Regions from separate parts of the Homo sapiens genome. Here region 2 is linked to region 1. Evidence: fine-mapped expression QTL. A gene starts in region 1. The other region holds a variant in brackets. All regions are shown on one strand. Distances are from middle to middle.

Region 1 (4,407 bases):
GAAGATATATTCTGGTAAGTTGAATACTTAGCACCCAGGGGTACACAGCTTGGACAGGACCAGGTCCAAAGACTGTTAAGAGTCTTCTGACTCCAAACTCAGTGCTCCCTCCAGTGCCACAAGCAAACTCCATAAAGGTATCCTGTGCTGAATAGAGACTGTAGAGTGGTACAAAGTAAGACAGACATTATATTAAGTCTTAGCTTTGTGACTTCGAATGACTTACCTAATCTAGCTAAATTTCAGTTTTACCATGTGTAAATCGGGAAGAGTAATAGAACAAACCTTGAAGGGTCCCAATGGTGATTAAATGAGGTGATGTACATAACATGCATCACTCATAATAAGTGCTCTTTAAATATTAGTCACTATTATTAGCCATCTCTGATTAGATTTGACAATAGGAACATTAGGAAAGATATAGTACATTCAGGATTTTGTTAGAAAGAGATGAAGAAATTCCCTTCCTTCCTGCCCTAGGTCATCTAGGAGTTGTCATGGTTCATTGTTGACAAATTAATTTTCCCAAATTTTTCACTTTGCTCAGAAAGTCTACATCGAAGCACCCAAGACTGTACAATCTAGTCCATCTTTTTCCACTTAACTCATACTGTGCTCTCCCTTTCTCAAAGCAAACTGTTTGCTATTCCTTGAATACACTCTGAGTTTTCTGCCTTTGCCTACTCAGCTGGCCCATGGCCCCTAATGTTTCTTCTCATCTCCACTGGGTCAAATCCTACCTGTACCTTATGGTTCTGTTAAAAGCAGTGCTTCCATAAAGTACTCCTAGCAAATGCACGGCCTCTCTCACGGATTATAAGAACACAGTTTATTTTATAAAGCATGTAGCTATTCTCTCCCTTGAAATACGATTATTATTATTAAGAATTTATAGCGGGGATATAATTTTGTATGATGATTCTTCTGGTTAATCCAACCAAGATTGATTTTATATCTATTACGTAAGACAGTAGCCAGACATAGCCGGGATATGAAAATAAAGTCTCTGCCTTCAACAAGTTCCAGTATTCTTTTCTTTCCTCCCCTCCCCTCCCCTCCCTTCCCCTCCCCTTCCTTCCCTTTCCCTTCCCTTCCTTTCTTTCTTGAGGGAGTCTCACTCTGTCACCAGGCTCCAGTGCAGTGGCGCTATCTTGGCTGACTGCAACCTCCGCCTCCCCGGTTCAAGCGATTCTCCTGCCTCAGCCTCCTGAGTAGCTGGGACTACAGGAGCCCGCCACCACGCCCAGCTAATTTTTGTATTTTTAGTAGAGATGGGGTTTCACCATGTTGGCCAGGATGGTCTCGATTTCTCGACTTCGTGATCCGCCTGTCTGGGCCTCCCAAAGTGCTGGGATTACAGGCGTGAGCCACCACGCCCGGCTTTAAAAAATGGTTTTGTAATGTAAGTGGAGGATAATACCCTACATGTTTATTAATAACAATAATATTCTTTAGGAAAAAGGGCGCGGTGGTGATTTACACTGATGACAAGCATTCCCGACTATGGAAAAAAAGCGCAGCTTTTTCTGCTCTGCTTTTATTCAGTAGAGTATTGTAGAGATTGTATAGAATTTCAGAGTTGAATAAAAGTTCCTCATAATTATAGGAGTGGAGAGAGGAGAGTCTCTTTCTTCCTTTCATTTTTATATTTAAGCAAGAGCTGGACATTTTCCAAGAAAGTTTTTTTTTTTAAGGCGCCTCTCAAAAGGGGCCGGATTTCCTTCTCCTGGAGGCAGATGTTGCCTCTCTCTCTCGCTCGGATTGGTTCAGTGCACTCTAGAAACACTGCTGTGGTGGAGAAACTGGACCCCAGGTCTGGAGCGAATTCCAGCCTGCAGGGCTGATAAGCGAGGCATTAGTGAGATTGAGAGAGACTTTACCCCGCCGTGGTGGTTGGAGGGCGCGCAGTAGAGCAGCAGCACAGGCGCGGGTCCCGGGAGGCCGGCTCTGCTCGCGCCGAGATGTGGAATCTCCTTCACGAAACCGACTCGGCTGTGGCCACCGCGCGCCGCCCGCGCTGGCTGTGCGCTGGGGCGCTGGTGCTGGCGGGTGGCTTCTTTCTCCTCGGCTTCCTCTTCGGTAGGGGGGCGCCTCGCGGAGCAAACCTCGGAGTCTTCCCCGTGGTGCCGCGGTGCTGGGACTCGCGGGTCAGCTGCCGAGTGGGATCCTGTTGCTGGTCTTCCCCAGGGGCGGCGATTAGGGTCGGGGTAATGTGGGGTGAGCACCCCTCGAGTTAGGAGGAGGGTAGCTGGGAACGGTGCAGGGCTGAGTTCTCGACAAGCTGCTGGTAGGACAGTCACTCAGGTTGAGGGTAGAACTGAGAGAACCTGAAACTGGGCGTAGGAAGGTTCCAAGTGCTGGAGCCCTGCAAGACAGAGGAAGTTTTTTTTTTGCTTTTGTTTTGTTTTGTTTTGTTTTGTTTGTTTGTTTGTTTTTTTACCTCTCTGTGCATTCTTTCTTCCTTGGAAGTAACAGAGGCAAGCTTGGGAACTGTGTGAACCAGGTCAGCAATCTGGACAGGTCTTTACCAGCGGGTCTTTTGCTGTTTTTCCTGGGTACTGATTTGCAGACTTGATCCAACTTTCTAAGAAAAGCAGAACCACACAGGCAAGCTCAGACTCTTTTATTAAATTCCAGTTTTGACTTTGCCACTTCTTAGTGGCCTTGAACAAGTTACCGAGTCCCTCTCAGCGTTAGTTACCCTATTTTATGATGAGGATAATATTATCTGCAAATTATTGGTAATAGTAAATAATATAGCATGTAAATCTCCTAGCACAGTACTGGGATTTTCGCCACTTTATTTCTTCTTTTACCAAGATACTCCTCATTGGACTTTAATACACAGGACTAGTCTAAGGTATCACCAGGTAGTCCACTCCTGCTCGGAATTCTTGACCCTCTTTCGGGATTTAGAAGAACAGGGCATGGACCAGATGGGTTTAAACAAATTCAATATCTTCCACTAGCTTCACCTTGGGGTTGTTAAAAGATTTTTGAACCACACACTGTGCTCATAACAATCTTCATCTCTTAAAAGGATTTTATTCTTCCTGGTATTGCCCTCACTCTCATCCCTGTATTCCGTGCTCAGTGGCTGACACAGAAGAGTTCTTTATTGATGTCCGCCCCCCACCCACTAGGATTCTCTGCTCTCCCCTCCCCCTACAGGCCTCCATCCTCTTCATCCTGTTCATTTTTCAGATCTCAGTTCAAGCATCTCGTCCTCAGTGTGGTGTTTCCTGATCCCTCACTCTAATCCAAGTCTTTCTGTTTTATGCACAGGTGGAATCTTATTTCCGTTTGCGTGCAATCATGTATTTTAATATGCATGTATATATGTATGTGCATTTGTATGCATGCGATTAAGAACTAGAATAATTAATAATTGGAAAGCTCCATGAAAGCTGGTTGGGGACTAATTTTGTAACTACTTTATTCCCAGATCCTGTAATTTCTCTAAATAAACCCTGGAATCTTGCCTTATCTCCTTCAGGTTAAAAGCCAACTGCAAGGTCTAATGACTGCAGGATCTAGCTATCCATTGTTTCTGGCCGCCTATGCGTGCACTGGGTGTCTGGCAGAGAGGCTGGGTAAATTGTAGTTTCATTGTAGCTGTCTGAACTTGGATTTCTCACGCCTACTTCACTGGAAACGCAAACTCTCACAGCATTTTGTTTTAGTTTCAGAATCAGAGCAAATTAGAAGTCTGAATTTCCTTCAACACTTGGAAATAATTTATTTATTTGAAATATATTCATAATTAATTCGTTATAAAAATGTATTAAATGCTTATTTGAGTCAGCAGAGGAAGATAGAAACTTTATGAAAGTAGAAGGTGGATCTCCTTTTTGCCTTCATTTTCAGAACATCTCGTTTACACCCATTAGTTGAAACATTAATGTCATTTTATTTTCGTCCTGATTATCTCATAAAACATTTCTTAGAATAACAGCAATACCTATCATTGAAGTTGGATAAGAAATATTTTGCAATTGGTTTGCAACTTAAAAATCTGTTTGCATGACTCTTTTTCAGTGAAAGTAGGCAAGAGAAATTAAAATTCAGAAATATCTCACCTAATGTCAGAGGTAATATTGATAATTTGTGTTTTACAAATAATACATACAACAATAATGAAAAATAAGTCCTATCTATAGGCTCGTATCTCATGCCTATTTTTGGATGTATTTTTCAGGGTGGTTTATAAAATCCTCCAATGAAGCTACTAACATTACTCCAAAGCATAATATGAAAGCATTTTTGGATGAATTGAAAGCTGAGAACATCAAGAAGTTCTTATAGTAAGTACATCCTCGAAAGTTTATATGGACAAGTTGTTAGAAAAATTTATCATTCTGTTTTGGTCCAATATTTTATATATAGGAACTGGACTTTTTTCTTAAA
Region 2 (4,407 bases), 99 kb before region 1:
GGATTAGGCAAAACTTCTTAAGTTATTTAAGTAAAGACAAACTTACTTGTGTATTTTCTCCCTTTTCAATCATTCCCTTCTATTTTCATGTTACCAATTTCATGTATATGGGATGTATAGATGCAGACAGATGGGAACATGTTTTACAACATGCTTTACAACATGTTTCCATCTGTATGCATGTATACATACCATATATATAAAATAGTTTTGCTATCTTTCTTAAATATACATTTAAACATGTGGTCTCTGCTCTCAATTATCTTTCTTAGAAAATGAATAAAGTCCAAATATCCAACATTAGTGAGAATATTAAATAAATTACAGTACTTTCCTACTGTGAAATATTATACGGTCATTAACATGAATGAGGCACATACAGTAATATGGAAAGATGTCCATCACATGTAGTTGAGTGAAAGGAGCCAGTTACAAAACAATATGATCCAGCAAATAAATATTAGAAACTCATGTATGCAGAAGCTTATGGGAAAATATCTGGAAAGATATATGTCAAACAGTAGAGAAAAGGATTGGAAAGTGGGGAAAATTTTTTTTAAGTTTCTATTTTATTTTATATCTGTGAATTGTCTAAATGTTTATAATGAACTCATGCTATTTTTATAATAATATTAAATGATATGCTGACTATCTAATCATATTTGATGGTGTCCATTATTTAGCTAGATGCCCTCCCATGCCATTATTTACTCCATTTGATTTTTCTAATTTTACTTCCCATTCTCTCTCCCATTACACTGGATTTTACCTTTTCTAAACACTGCCTGTTTTGTTTAATGCTTCCACCTCAACCCAGAGTATCTGTGTTTCCCCTAAATTCCATCTCCAAAGAAAATTGTGCATATATTAGATTTCCATATACATTAAAATACTCCATAAAAGGAGAAAAGTAAATATTCAAGAAATTATATATATATATAAAATTTCTTTTTTGAGACAAGGTCTCACTCTCTTGCCCAGGCTGGAGAGCACTGGTGGGATCAAGGCTCAATGAAACCTCAAACACTGGGGCTCAAGCAATCCTCCTGCCTCAGCCTTCCTAGTAGCTGGGACTACAGGTGTGTACCACCACACCTGGCTTTTTTATTTATTTATTTACTGTAGAAACGGGGTCTCCTTATGTTTCGCAGGCTGGTCTTAAAATCCTGGGTTCAAGTGGTCTTCCTACCTTGACCTCCCAAAGTGCTGGGATTACAGGCATGAGTCACAGTGCTTGGCCTGTATTTTGAATCAACAAGCTTTAATATGTTTTAATACATTACTTCCTGAATTGTAAGGTGTCAAAAAATAATAAAGAGTAGTTACAAAGTTCTTGAGCAGATAACTATTTTCCTTGTAAAAAGATGGCTTACTTAAACATCAAGAATACTATGATAGCCTTGAATACCTTTTAGAATGAGATAGGACACAAAAAAAGAAAAAGATGCATAGCACCCTACAAATGTGAAAAAGCACGAGATATGTTTCTTACCATTGTGAGGGTAAATGGATGATTTTCTAATGCAGATATACTGGGACAATGTAGAGTAATATACTAAAAAGCAAAAAACGGATAAGTTTTAAATGACCAATTAAGAATTGCAACTATTTCAACGATGCTATGTTTGCTAAATTCCAAAAATTACATAAGGATAAAGGCTATTTAAAAAGTTGCTGACCACTGACTCACCTGACCAGGTCTTGCTTTAAAATTTTCTTTGACCATCCGGATTTCCATGACATCTGAGGGATGACTT[A/G]TGACCAAAATGATGGTGACTGGCTTATTGCTCCGCATATACCTGTAAAGTCTTTCAGCACAGTACAGGCACAAAGGTCCAGAAATCCAAAGCCAAGTCTAAGACAAATTTTTGAAAATATACTTCAAGAAATACTCGTATTGTAGAAATCTACACCCTGCCCAATTGCTCATTGCATACATTACAGTAATAGTATTTTAATTTGTATTTTAAATAAGAAAATATAATAAATGAGTAAAAAACAATAGATGCTCACTATCATTCAAACAAACAAAAGTATAAAATAAAACACAAAGTAATATCAAGACCCTGCCCTCATTCTCATGCTCTGGGTGTAACTATCCATGAACAAACAAGTGTATATTCTTTCATACACCTTTCTATGCCTACAGATATGTAATGTATATACACAACATATTTAATAAAAGAATACAGGGAAGTTAACAATCTCCGATAAATATGGGGATAATTTTAGAAATAAAGTAACAGTCTAATGTTTATTAAATAAGAAAACCCTAGATTTTTAATGTACATAATGTATATGCATAATATACATACATATGTGTATATATGTTAAATATGTATAGCACATATGTTTAAAAATGCATTATGCTAGGCATGTTGTTTACCACTTACTTTTATATAATATAATAAGAACATAAAATAATATTTATAATTTGGAAACCTGACAATTTTGAATATGTGTTGCATGGTTAGCCCTGATCCCAGGACACATGCAAACTTTGGGACGTGCAGAAGCCTATGTGGCTTACTGTTCTCTTAAAATTACACACTTTATCTTTCACATCCCTTTGAGGCCTCCAACTAAAACTTGTCTTAATGGTCACTTTTTAAAGCCTCACTCTAGTTGTTTCAAATCTTCTTTCTTTCATGCAGACAGATCATGCCTCTTCTGCATATAATAACATTTAGCCCCACACTGTGTTATGAGTAGCATTGCAAGACAAGGTCTGCAATGTAGCAGCCTTGCACCTTTGAGATAATCACTTACTCTTTGAGTGTCAGGTCCCACATGAGCAAAACGGGAGTCACCATACCTGCCCTGTCTAATATTTGTGAATATTATGTGAAACTCAGAAAAGTTCTGAAAATTATAGAGACTAGTAGGGATCTAGAGGATTATTATTAATAATAATAAACACATCACTAATACACTATTCCAAAGTCATCTACAAATTCATTCTAGCTTTTGACTTCTCTTTCTTCTCTTCCAATAGAGACATTTGACATCACTATTTCCTACTTCCACTTTTTATAGATGAGGAATAAACAGTGTAATTTGCATGGGGGTAGTTCTCACAGGCACAGAGGAAGATAAGGGCCCTTATTGAACTAATTGCTGAATACTTATGGACGTTTACCAGGAGCAAGCATATTAGTCAAAGACCTGTGTTTACATGCTTCCTCTGCCACTTACTGGTTTGGAGACTTTGATTAAGGTAAGTACAATTTCTTTATCAGAAAATCGAGGGTGATATTAATTACCTCAAATAGTCATTGCGAATATTGCAAGAAACATTCTGTATGTCTAATAAGTGTTCTGTATTAGGCATACGGGACATTTTAGCACAATGCTTGGCAGATAATATTAAGCATTCAATCAACTGATTTTGCTATTTACTATTTACAATATTATACATAATATTATAATACAATAAAATAATAATTTGTGATATTGGTGGTAGTTTTTTTACTACTATTTTTATTATTAAATCAGCTTTTCTCAAATGATGGGAAAAATATTTGTCATCTCTTGGCTGCAAGCACCAGTGCTGTTGTATGCAAAGCTCATATGGTCAGTTAAGTAGAAATGTTATATATCCTCTAATACCATAGATCTTTTGCATTCAACTGTCAAGTACCTGTAATGGAATAATAGGTACTAACTTACTGTTGAAACATCCTGAAATATCCTATTATGCATGAATATATAGCTTGAAAAACACATTTATATGTGATGTTGATCAGTCAAATGGAAACAAACTTTGTGGAGATCAAACACAAAATTAATCTGACCTGTGGAAAATTAGCTTGGAATCTGGGCTCTTCCATACAAATCTTCACAAATGTGTTCTGGGTAAACTCTTCCAGTTTTGAAAATCCTTCAGGGAAAGGTTCATGAAAATGTTCTGAGATATACTCTGGTAAGGAAATATTCTGAGAGCTGGTTCAGTTAAGACTGATACAGCCGGGAGGGTTGGTATCTAAATTAGTTTGATACTTCAGCAGCCCTCTAAAATTAAATTAAAAAAAAAACAAACAGAGAAATGAAAAGATTTGAGATCAGGGGACACGGTAAAAGAAAATAATGTCTTTGTTTTTGTTTTTTTTTTTGCTAACTTTACACAACATTTATCTAAAAAGTGTTCCTTATGTATTATGTTTAGGAGAAATTGAAAAATCTTAAAAAATGTTAAGAAATTCTTATCTATAGGACTAAAACAAAAATTTTGGCACTCCAAACAAATGCTATAAATATGCAGTAGAAAAGAATACATGCAATCTCTCCAGGCATTGTTGAATTTGACGGCCTTTACTTCAAGACTATTAGGCATTCATACAATCACATACAAGTTTTCACTTCAATAAACAGTATAATGAGGAATATTTTGCTAGATCTCCAAACATA

Which allele goes with the higher level. Positions count from the first base shown, and alleles are read on the strand shown. Sizes are in standard deviations (SD) of each study's normalised expression.
For the expression in esophagus mucosa of the gene that starts at base 1,769 in region 1, allele G in region 2 goes with a higher level than allele A (moderate effect, 0.43 SD a copy in GTEx).

The links. PIP is the estimated chance that this variant, and not a neighbour inherited with it, causes the effect.
Region 2: its variant is the best candidate, but not a certain one, in a credible set for the expression of FOLH1 in esophagus mucosa (GTEx, PIP 0.66).

The regions. Positions count from the first base shown.
Region 1 is chr11:49,205,964-49,210,370 of GRCh38, reverse strand. FOLH1 (folate hydrolase 1) reads left to right here and starts at 1,769. Exons shown (of 19, transcript NM_004476.3): 1 at 1,769-2,079; 2 at 4,199-4,304. The coding sequence starts at 1,962.
Region 2 is chr11:49,305,320-49,309,726 of GRCh38, reverse strand. It overlaps the pseudogene NOX4P1. Among named protein-coding and RNA genes, the nearest start is that of FOLH1, 99 kb to the right of the region's middle. The variant A/G (reference allele first, on the strand shown) is at 1,758.